2 linked regions of the Homo sapiens genome follow. The protein of the gene in region 1 interacts with the protein of each later gene in a pairwise test. Each region holds a gene or a part of one and is shown on either strand. Other genes may lie near its edges.

Region 1 (7,301 bases):
GTGGATGGTGAAAAAAAGAGAAACCCTGGGACTGGAAATAAAAAGAGAGTTAAAAGAGAAAGTCTGCAGTAGTAAAGAAGTATACAATGAAATTTGAAGTGAAACAAAACACAAGGAAAATAGAGCCTTAAAGTGTTTGTTAGGAATGCCTAGAAAGCTATCATAGACAGGACAATATTTGCAAGTGGGGAAGGGTGTTGCAAGTGTTGTAGATATGTAGATTAGATTAAAGAAACAAAATCTATAGCTTTTTATGTATCAATCATCCACCATCTTGGACTATGGTGGGACTGAGGAGATGAGGGTCTACAAATACTAATCTTAAAACCAGAAAGACAGGACATTGAACATTTGGATGGATAAACCAACATTGAAAAAAGTCTCAGCAGATGTATTGTTAGAGTAAAACAAGCTCACCACTATCTCAGGGATCTTACCATTTTTTTCTGAGGGGATGGCAACTAGGAACAAATTACATAGTTCCCACTATTTGGGACTTAAGATAGGTAAAATGTCCTTTCTTTTTTTTTTTTAAGTGTGCTGACCATTGTTTAAGTTTTTTTGTTTTTGTTTTTGTTTTTTGAGATGGAGTCTCACTCTGTCACCCAGGCTGGAGTGCAACGGTGTGATCTTGACTCACTGCAACCTCCCCCTCCTGGTTTCAAGTAATTCTCGTGTCTCAGCCTCCCGAGTAGCTGGGATTACAGGCACACACCACCATGCCTGCCTAATTTTTGTATTTTTATAGAGACAGGGTTTCACCATGTTGGCCAGGCTGGTCTTGGACTCCTGACCTCAGCTGATCCGCTCGCCTTGGCCTCCCAAAGTGCTGGGAATACAGGTGTGAGCCACCACACCCGGCCCATTGTTTAATTTTAATGAAAATATTTTTCCCGTAAGATTTTAAATTTGCCAACTGTGAACTTCAGATCCACTTATAAGTCCTAGTTCTCAGGGTTGGTAAAGGAGTATTATGAAGGGACAGGGACCATACACATTCATGTAGTATAGCGACTCATTGCTGGCATTCATCATGATGGGACAGGCATTGACAAGCTATGGCCTGTGGGCCAGATCTGACAGCTTGCCCGTATGTCTCGTGGGCTAAGAATGGTTTTCACATTCCTGAATGGTTGGAAATAAATCAAAAGAAGATCAGTATTTTGTGACCCATGAAATTTAGATGAAATTCAAATTTCAGTGTCTATAAACAAAGTTTTATTGGAACATAGCCATGCTCATTTGGTTACATATTGTCTACAGCTGCTTTCCCGCTGCAGTGGCAGAGTTGAGTAGCTGCAATGGAGACTGTGGGCCCACAGAGCCTGAAATATTTACTATGTGGACCTTTACAGAAAAAGTTTGCCATCTTTTGTTATAGATGAAAGAACCTATCTAAGTGATTGACAGTGAAACCACTGGAGATGAAAGAAATCGTTTTCATTTGGAAAGGAGTTCACAGTGTTTGGTTTCTTGTTCTTTAATTAGAAGTATAGGTTGGAGAAAGGTTCTCAGTTGATTGGCTTATTTGAGGAACACTGGCCGTCACAGCCAAAGCAGATGATGAAGTTAACATGGTTATTCAAAAGGTTGTGATCTTTCAAAGGCAGCAGATGAATTTTTTTTAAGTATTCGTGTTTCAGTTTAAAAATACTCCATGGACAGTTTCCATCTGACTTGCCCCCAAATAGATGTTATTTTAGCTATTTTGATTAGGTTGAATTCGAGTGAAAGAAATCAAGAAACAAATTTGTTAAGAACCAAAATGCTTTGTAGCACACATGGTGAGAGAAGATAACTCAGATATCAAAGAAGCATCAGACATGGGTCCACCCTTGAGAAATGCAGAGGATCAAAGAAGCACACAGAGCAGAAAGGGGTCCCTGGAGGAGGCTAGTATCTACTAGCCATGTCCCAAGGGATGACATTACCCCGGTACATCCTCCAGGGCTCAGGCTGGTCTTGCAATCTCAGAATACTGACTTGTTAGCACATCAAAAATTAATGTATCTTTCAGCAACAGATACACAGGTACCAGACTCTCAGAGACTCTAAAAGCCAGAAAGACAGTTTATTAATTTGACAATAAGATCTGTCACATCAGAGAAGTGGACACTCACGTCCTTTGGCTAATGTATTCTTCCTCTAAGTAAGCCATATGGGAAATCCAATTATTCTCAGAAGTCCGTTTTCTGCATTTACAATGAGAAGCCAAGCTGCCAGGAGGTCAGGATGCTTACATCTTCTGGCCTGTACAGGAGTACATCCTCTTCCTAGAGCAACAGAGCCTGGGAATTGGATGATAATGAGAAGGCAGTTCTGGGAATCGTCCAGGACAGCGTGGCTGCCACCTTTTCCAGTCAGATCACCATTACCTGTGCTCTCACAGCACACTTTGGTCCCACTCTGTAATAACATAGCACAAGTCCGATTCCATTGTAATGGCCTGCTTACTTCTCTTTTCACATCACTTGACTTTAGTCCCTATATTTTATTCATCATTTTATCTTCAGCTTCAGTGCAGTGCCCTGACTAGAGAAGGTGCTAATGGGCCCAGGGCAAGATGGCCACAGGCATCCTTCTCCTCAGGGATGGTGGCCTCTGTAACCCAAAAAGGCCCTTGCACTGGGCCCTTTGCTGGGGAAGGGCGTGGGTGACACCATCCACATCTGCCTCTGTTGCTTCTTCTATGTTTTTTGGCTAATGTGAATACTTTTTTAAAAATGACACTGCATAGCTCTAATCTAATCTATTCTTCCTCCTTAAATCCTCACCCACCTTTGAAAAAAAAACTAACATCTTTTTATTGTGGAAAAAATCAAAATATACAAAAAGAAGAAATAGCAGTATGATTCTTAATTCTTTTTGTTTGTGTGTGTGTTTTTAGACAGGGTCACTCTGTCACCCAGGCTGGAAGGCAGTGGTTTGATCACAACTCACTGCATCCTTGACCTCCTGGGTTCAAACGATCCTCCTGCCTCAGCTTCCTGAGTAGCTGGGACCACAGATGTGTATCTCCATGCCTGGCTAATTTTAAAAATTTTTTGTAGAGATGGAGTCTCCCTATGTTGCCCAGGCTGGTCTCAAACTGCTGGGCTGAAGTGATCTTCCCACCTTGGCCTCCCAAAGTGCTGGGACTATAGGCTTAAGCCACTGTGCCCAGCCAGTATGATCTGTGCCACCCCTTCCCTGGCTCCAACATCATCAACTTACAGCCAACCTTGTTTTGTTTATACCTTCACGCGCTCCCCACTCCCCCCAGGATTATTTTCAAGCAAATCCCATGTATTTCATCTGTAAATATTTTAGTATATGTCTCTAAAAGGTAGTGACTTTTTATAAAGAAAACAATACCACACACATTAAACAACTTGACGTTAGTTCTCTAATATAATCAATTATTCAGTCAGTGTTCAAATGTCCCCATTTACCTCATAACTTTCTTTTTTGCAGTTTGTTTGTATCAAGAGCCAAATAAGTTGCATTTAGTTGATATGTCTATAGGTCTGGGTTCTCTCTTTCTCTCTTTTTCTTCCTTGTAATACATTTCTTGAAGAAACTGGGTTGTTGTTGTTTTTTTCAGTCTGAATTTTCATTGTACCTCCATGCAGTTTTTTAAAACATGTTCCTTTGTCCCCTGTATTTCCTGTAAATTAGTATTTGGGTCTAGAGTTTGACTTTTTGGTAAGAATGCATCACAGAAGTGTTATATATTTCCATAATGAGGTATATAATGTCAAGTGATCTCTTTTCATAATGTTAGCAATATATTGTTTTTAAAGTTTAATGCTTGGGAATTATCTATTTGCAATTTATTGGGAGACATTTCACTGTGGCCTCAAATACATGGGAGCACATGACATATATATTTGGAGTAATTTGAGAACAATACAACCTCATATGTAATTAGGGTTAAATTCTGTTGTGCTGATTTTACTTGCTTTAATCTATTAGGAAAGGAAAGTTTAGCCAGACCTGGACTCCCTCAGACTGGGGATACATGTAGGATTGGTGTGCTCAATCCACACCCTTGACCCTGCTGCCTGGTCTCCTGCATGCAGCCTGGGAGCTGGAAAGAGTCTTCAGAGGAAAAGTGGTGCTTAGCAAAGCAAATCCAGCCTCTTTGTCTTAGTTGGAGTTCTCTCAAATGGATTTCTGGCCCCTCCTGTGAGGTGGGACTGGCAGATACCTTTTGTTGGAATTTCCCATGAGCTTAGAAGATTTTATGGCCCTCTCATCGTAGCTGCTTATTGTCCTGCACCACCTCCTCACACCCCATGCAGCTAGTTTTTCTTCAGTCAGAATAAAATCACGTTTGTGCATCCTCAACAGTGGTCAATGAGAGTGGGTTTTTCCTCCAGTACTTTCACGTCACAGATGAGGGAGAGACTGCCCTAGGAGTACTGAGAGACTGAGGAAAGAGAAAGAGGATGGAAAGAACTGGGTGGGGAGGGAGACAGCGAGAGATCCAGCTGAACATCTGACAGAAAACAATCTGGCTGACGAGCGGAGGCGGACAATCCTGGTGTGTTGACTCAGCTGCATCCGTGTGCACCCTCTTGCTTCCCCTGCCCCAGAAGAAACACAAAGTGCTGCCACTACTCTCTTTTCTCTCCATGCCAGCTCTTTCTTGGCGCAACTATCTGTTTCCTTTGCTGTAACTGCTCAGATTCCTTAAACTCTGTATCTGTGGCTTATCTTCTAGACCAGATGTATTTTTGTCTGTTGGATATTCCCACATGAATATCCCATTAATATTTTGTGGGGCAGACATTGTTTTCCTTCACCTACCTCTGCTATAGAGGCTAGAAAAACAACATAGTTATTTTCCCAATCTTCCTTCAGGTGAGGTGTCCATGTGGCACTGTCTGGCCAATGAGACATAGCAGAAGTCTACAGGAGGCTTCCAGGGAAGCTCTTGCTTTACCCGTGTATTTGATTTCCCCTTCCTCTCTTCTTTCTGCCTGGAGTTACTACCCGAGGCCCGGGCCTGTGGCAGCCATCTTGTAATCCCAGGAGCAAGTGCCCAGAGAAACACAGAGCCCCCAGTTCTGACTTTGTCCACCTGCTGAACCCAGATCAGTAGTTACCCACCTTCAGATTTTTGTTTTGTGAAGAAAAAAGCCCTATTTCTCTAAAGCATTCTTTGTTTGGTGTTCTATCATTTGCCATCAAAATGATCTCTAACCTAACAGATTGATACTTGTCTAAAGTTGACCTCATCTTTTTTAGCCCTGCTCCCCATTTGTTTCTCCTTCTTGCTTTACTATTTTATTTATGATGTCATGACTTCCTCATTCTCAGAACTTTGAAGTTATCTGCATTTTCCCTTTCCTATGTCCTTTTCCACATCTAACCAGTCACTAATTGTCTTGACTTTTATTCCACTTTTATTTCAGGGCCTTAGCATCTGGATCTCCCCGTTTTCTGTTTCCAGTCTGGAAAACATGATATAGTCAAATCAGCTTTGTCTTAGGATCAGCCAGACCTGGATTCAAATTCTGTCACCTCTACCCTCTAGCTATGTGATCTTGGCCAAGTTATTAATCTTTTTGAATCTTTGTTTTCACATCTTCAAATGAGATTCCCAGTGCCTACAGTAATGGCTATGTTGAGGTGTGTGAGCTAATGCAAACGTTGCGTGGTCATCTCTAGAGAGAAAATGTAGTGTAGAGGTTAAAAATTTAGGAGTCAGACTGTATAGGCTCAAACCCCAGTTTTAATTTTATTGATGGTGTAATTTTGGGCAAGTTATTTGGTTCTAGTAGTTACTTTATAGATTCATTGGGATTTTCCCTGTAGACAATCTTGAATGTGAATACTGGTAGTTTTACTTATTCTTTCTGATTTTTATGTCTTCTATTATTTATTTTTCTTGCCTTATTGCATTTGCCAGGAATGCCAGGACAAAATTGAATAGAAGGGGTGAGAATGGATGCTCTTGTTTTGGTTATGATCTTATAAAAAATAGTTTGCTATTTTGCCACATTAGTTGTCTTTCATGTAGTTGTTTTTTTTTAGCAAATTCCCTTTTCTGAAATTATTGAGATGATTATATTATTTTTCTGTTTTATTCTGTAAATATAGTGAATTTACATTGTCTGAATTTCAAATGTTAAGCCAACCTTGCCTTCCTAGAATAGATACTACTTTGTCAACATGCATTATACTTTTTATATATTACTTTATTCAACTTACTAATATTTCATTAATGCTACTTTCATGTCAATTCATGAGGGATATTAGCCTATAACTTTCTTTTCTTATTTTAGTATCAGGATTATTCTGGCTTAATCAAGTGAATTAAGAAACATTTCCTTTTTTCCTATTTTTTCCCTCTATTTTTAAATGAACTTATATAAGATCAATGCTATTTATTTTACAAATGTCTTATAGATGTCATCTGGGCCAGGAGTTTTCTATATGAAAAGCTTTTTAATGACAAATTCAAACTGTAATAGAGGACTGTTCAGATTTTCTTTTCATGTCAGTTTTTATAGTTATTTCAAGGAGTTTGTCCATTTCATCTAAGTTATCAAATTTATTGACATAGAGTTGTTCATAGTATTCCTTATAATCCTTTTAATGCCATTAGGATATGTAGTGTTGTTCTGTCCTTTGTATCCCATATTGGTAATTTGTGTCTTTTTTTTTTAATTCATTCTTACTAGGAGCTTCCCAATTTTGTTAATATTTTAAAAGAAACAACTTTTAGTTGATTTACTGTTTTCTTTGAGAAATTTATTGATTTTTGCTCATTTTTTTTTCCTTTTTTCTCCTTACTTTGGGTTTAACTTATTCTTCTTTTTCTGGCTTCTTAAAGTGGAAACTTAGTTGGTTAATTTTAACCTTTCTTCTTTACTAATATAAGCATTTCAGCTTCAATTTCTCATTTTCAACACAAGGAAGCACAGGTATTTTTTTATTCAGTATTTGTAAACTTAAACTATTTCTGCTGGAGAAGAACAATTAATCAAGCTGATACTGGGACCTCTTGACTCCCTCAGCCTCAAGAATATACTTTGCAATGTGGTGAACAATATCCTCAACAACATTCCAACAGTGATTCAGCAGTGAGTTTCACAGGCTCTTTAAATACAGCATAATTCTAAAGAAACATTAAGAAAGGGTAATTCTGCGAGGGGGCCAATATAATATACAGTTTTCAGGTGATCTGATTTAATCCAAGGAAAGATTGTAGTATATTTTAGAAATAGATGGATTGTGTTTCTTACTGAAAATCCACTATAAATATTGTTTTTTCGCATTTGAGCCGTTAACAATGATTATGATTGAGTTGC
Region 2 (3,995 bases), 2.9 Mb from region 1:
TAGGACTTAATTTTCTTATATAGTAAATAGAAGTATGTTATAATTATATTTTTATTTGTAGGGAGCAAGAAGCAAAACAAAAGTTAGAAGAAGATGCTGAAATGGTAAGTATATATTACTGCTATCTAGTACATCTGTAATTCGAAGTTAAATGAATAGCTTTTAAGTCTGAGGACTTTTTCAAGAAAATACGTAAGCAAAGCTATCTATAGTTGTTATTGCATTAAGTAATACATCAGGTATTATATTGAGGGAAAAGAGAAAACTAAGGATAGGAAATATGTTCTAAAATATGGAAAAGGCCGGGTGCAGTGGCCCACGCCTGTAATCCCAGCACTTTGGAAGGCCGAGGCGGGCAGATCAGTTGAGGCACGGAGTTCGAGACCAGCCTGGCCAATATGGTGAAACCCCATCTTGACTAAAAATACAAAAATTAGCCAGGCGTGGTGGTGCATGCCTGTAATCCCAGCTATGTGGGAGGCTGAGGCAGGAGAATCACTTGAACCCAGGAGGCGGAGGTTGCAGTGAACCAAGATCATGCCACTGCAGTCCAGCCTGGGTGACAGAGTGAGACCCTGTTTAAAAATAAAAAATATAATAAAACACAGGAAAATATATTTTGAAATATTCAGAAAAAGTTCATTTATGCCTAGAACTTATTTTTATGAGAAAATGTCCTATAACTTCTAAAGATTCTAATCATAGGTTAATACTAACATGACTTTTATTTTTGACTTAATAAGATACTGATGTGTATTTCCATTTAGAAAGTTACAGGTAAAAATTTTTATTTGGGGAAAATAATGACTATAAAATTTTTTTTTTTCTTTTTTTGAGACCGAGTCTCACTGTTGCCCAGGCTGGAGTGCAGTGGCGCGATCTCGGCTCACTGCAAGCTCCACCTCCCAGATTCATGCCATTCTTCTGCCTCAGCCTCCCGAGTAGCTGGGACTACAGGCGCCTGCCACCACGTCCGGCTAATTTTTTGTATTTTTTTTTAGCAGAGACGGGGTTTCACCATGTTAGCCAGGATGCTCTCGATCTCTTGACCTGGTGATCCGCCTGCCTCGGCCTCCCAAAGTGCTGGGATTACAGGTGTCAGCCACTGCGCCCGGCCTAAAAATTTTTTAAAGTATGATAAATACTGCCTAGAATTATTTTCCAAGATAGTTTAATAGCCAGATTTATGTAGTTTATAACTAATTAAATACCAGTTGTATAAGAGATCAAATAATATTGAAAGCCATTTTGGAATAAAGGATGACAAAGGAAAACACCAACACTATGAAACTACTTTATTTATTTATTATTATTATTATTTTTTGAGATGGAGTTTCGCTCTTGCTGCCCCGGCGGAAGAAACTACTTTAAAATAGCATTTTGGTTTCTAGTCTTTTTCTTGTATAGCTATAAGGTGGTGTGAGTCATTTCTGGTCTGTTGTTGCTTTTAAGAAACTTTTTGATCACTTTGTATATTTTTATAGAAATCTCTAGAAGAAAAGATTGGATGCTTGCTGAAATTTTCGGGTGATTTAGATGATCAGACCTGTAGAGAAGATTTACACATACTTTTCTCAAATCATGGTGAAATAAAATGGATAGACTTCGTCAGAGGAGCAAAAGAGGTTTGGATACATCCCTATCCTTTTTAGCAATCAGTTTGAAAATCTGTAGAAACTTAGACAAAATTAGTAGAAAGTAATTTTAAAAATTGTGTTTATTAAATTAGTTTCTACTTGATCATTTGTTATTGCCACTAGATGTGATGTCTGATATTTTCTGAATTATACTAAATTAGTTTCTACTTGATCATTTACTTTGTTGTTATTGTCACTATATGTGATGTCTGATAGTTTCTGAATTATACTATGAATAACTGTTCATACTGATGATTGCAGTTTTACTTCTGTAGCATTCCTTTTCTACTGTTCAGTAAAATTCATTCAAACTGGTAAAGACATGGAAGGTTTGCAGGGTAGAAAAAATTACTTTGGACAAAGAAATTAATTGTGGGACTAAAAACCAAGGGTATGGCTTTTGTTTTCTGTCTCTGGTATAGGGGATAATTCTATTTAAAGAAAAAGCCAAGGAAGCATTGGGTAAAGCCAAAGATGCAAATAATGGTAACCTACAATTAAGGAACAAAGAAGTGACTTGGGAAGTACTAGAAGGAGAGGTGGAAAAAGAAGCACTGAAGAAAATAATAGAAGACCAACAAGAATCCCTAAACAAATGGAAGTCAAAAGGTCATTTATTCTGATTTTTCTTTAACAGTTTGGTTGTTGAACCCATTTACTTGAGCAAAAACTTTAATCAGTGTTCAAAAACATTGACAAGAGACTTAAAAAAAGTTCTTTACAGAGTGCTCAATTGTGTCTCTACAGGTCGTAGATTTAAAGGAAAAGGAAAGGGTAATAAAGCTGCCCAGCCTGGGTCTGGTAAAGGAAAAGTACAGTTTCAGGGCAAGAAAACGAAATTTGCTAGTGATGATGAACATGATGAACATGATGAAAATGGTGCAACTGGTAAGTTTTTTTTAAGTCCTTTGGTAGTTTCATGAGAAAATTTCTACTTCCATAAATAAATGATTTGCCAGAGAGAATAGGGATTTGGCTTTTCAACTCCTGGATAAGTGCCATTCTTGGATTATTAACGATTTACCTCGGTTATGCTGTTGTATAAGTCAGGGACAGGATATTTGGAAGATGAATCTAGAGGTCAGGTCTGTACTAAGAGAAAAGCCTTTTCTCATTGGTGCAAGGAAGTTGTTGCATCTTTTTCAACAGTATCATTATTAGTAATTGTGCTCAGTATTAAACTAGAGCAGTACTTACGTTGAATTTAACAAAAATTAATTGTTACGTTATAGGACCTGTGAAAAGAGCAAGAGAAGAAACAGACAAAGAAGAACCTGCATCCAAACAACAGAAAACAGAAAATGGTGCTGGAGACCAGTAGTTTAGTAAACCAATTTTTTATTCATTTTAAATAGGTTTTAAACGACTTTTGTTTGCGGGGCTTTTAAAAGGAAAACCGAATTAGGTCCACTTCAATGTCCACCTGTGAGAAAGGAAAAATTTTTTTGTTGTTTAACTTGTCTTTTTGTTATGCAAATGAGATTTCTTTGAATGTATTGTTCTGTTTGTGTTATTTCAGATGATTCAAATATCAAAAGGAAGATTCTTCCATTAAATTGCCTTTGTAATATGAGAATGTATTAGTACAAACTAACTAATAAAATATATACTATATGAAAAGAGCAAAAACAGTTTTTGATTTTTTTTTTCTTTTTGTACCCAAAGCATTTAGGAAAGAACTAGAATATTAGCTATTGACGATGGGCCTTTCCCACAGGCCATTTATGGTGTCTCCTAGGCTGGCTTTGTATATTTACACAGGAAAGTTGGTAACACTAGAAATAATTACTTGTCACAAAGCTTTCCTTTTTTTTTCTTTTTCGAGACTGAGTCTCACTCTTATCGCGCAGGCTGGAGTTCAGTGGGGCAATCTCAGCTCACTGCAACCTCTGCCTCCTGAGTTCAAGCGATTCTCTTGCCTCAGCCTCCCGAGTAGCTGGGATTACAGGCATGAACCACCACATCCGGCCCAGAAAGCTTTTCAATACCGAATGTAGACCAGCCAAAATCAAGAGACTTACTGATTTCTTTTTGTGAAACTTGTATGATGCTGGCAGGTCATATCGAAGTTCTGTAAAACAAAAGCCACCTAAGGATAAAATTGTATTTCCAAGCGTTTACCACCCTTGACTAAACAACAACAACAACAAAAACTAAGAAAAGTGTTAAGTGCTGGTAAGCTGAACATTTTAGAACCTTTAACTTATCCAAGTAGTGACTTCTGTATTCCTAGCATTAGCCATGGCAGCTTGGCATTTCTGTTATTATGGCCATTTATACTGAAATTTGAGGTTATAAGTGATGAGTTTAGAAGGATAAACAGTGGACGAAAAAGTAAATCCTATGAAAATGATGGTA

What was found.
Region 2: the proteins of RAPGEF4 (region 1) and SSB interact in binary tests that used the Homo sapiens proteins (3 or more experiments, as listed by UniProt).

What each region holds. Positions count from the first base shown.
Region 1 is NC_000002.12:172,738,808-172,746,108, forward strand, and holds part of RAPGEF4 (rap guanine nucleotide exchange factor 4), read left to right. Parts: intron 1-7,301.
Region 2 is NC_000002.12:169,808,799-169,812,793, forward strand, and holds the end of SSB (lupus La protein), read left to right. Parts: intron 1-61; coding exon 62-104; intron 105-1,484; coding exon 1,485-1,625; intron 1,626-2,059; coding exon 2,060-2,246; intron 2,247-2,384; coding exon 2,385-2,525; intron 2,526-2,869; coding exon 2,870-2,958; 3' UTR 2,959-3,021; coding exon of another isoform or gene 3,022-3,060; 3' UTR 3,061-3,266; downstream 3,267-3,995. Other genes in the region: rRNA N(6)-adenosine-methyltransferase METTL5, read right to left, coding at 3,022-3,060, 3,659-3,708. UniProt on the Homo sapiens protein: Binds to the 3' poly(U) terminus of nascent RNA polymerase III transcripts, protecting them from exonuclease digestion and facilitating their folding and maturation.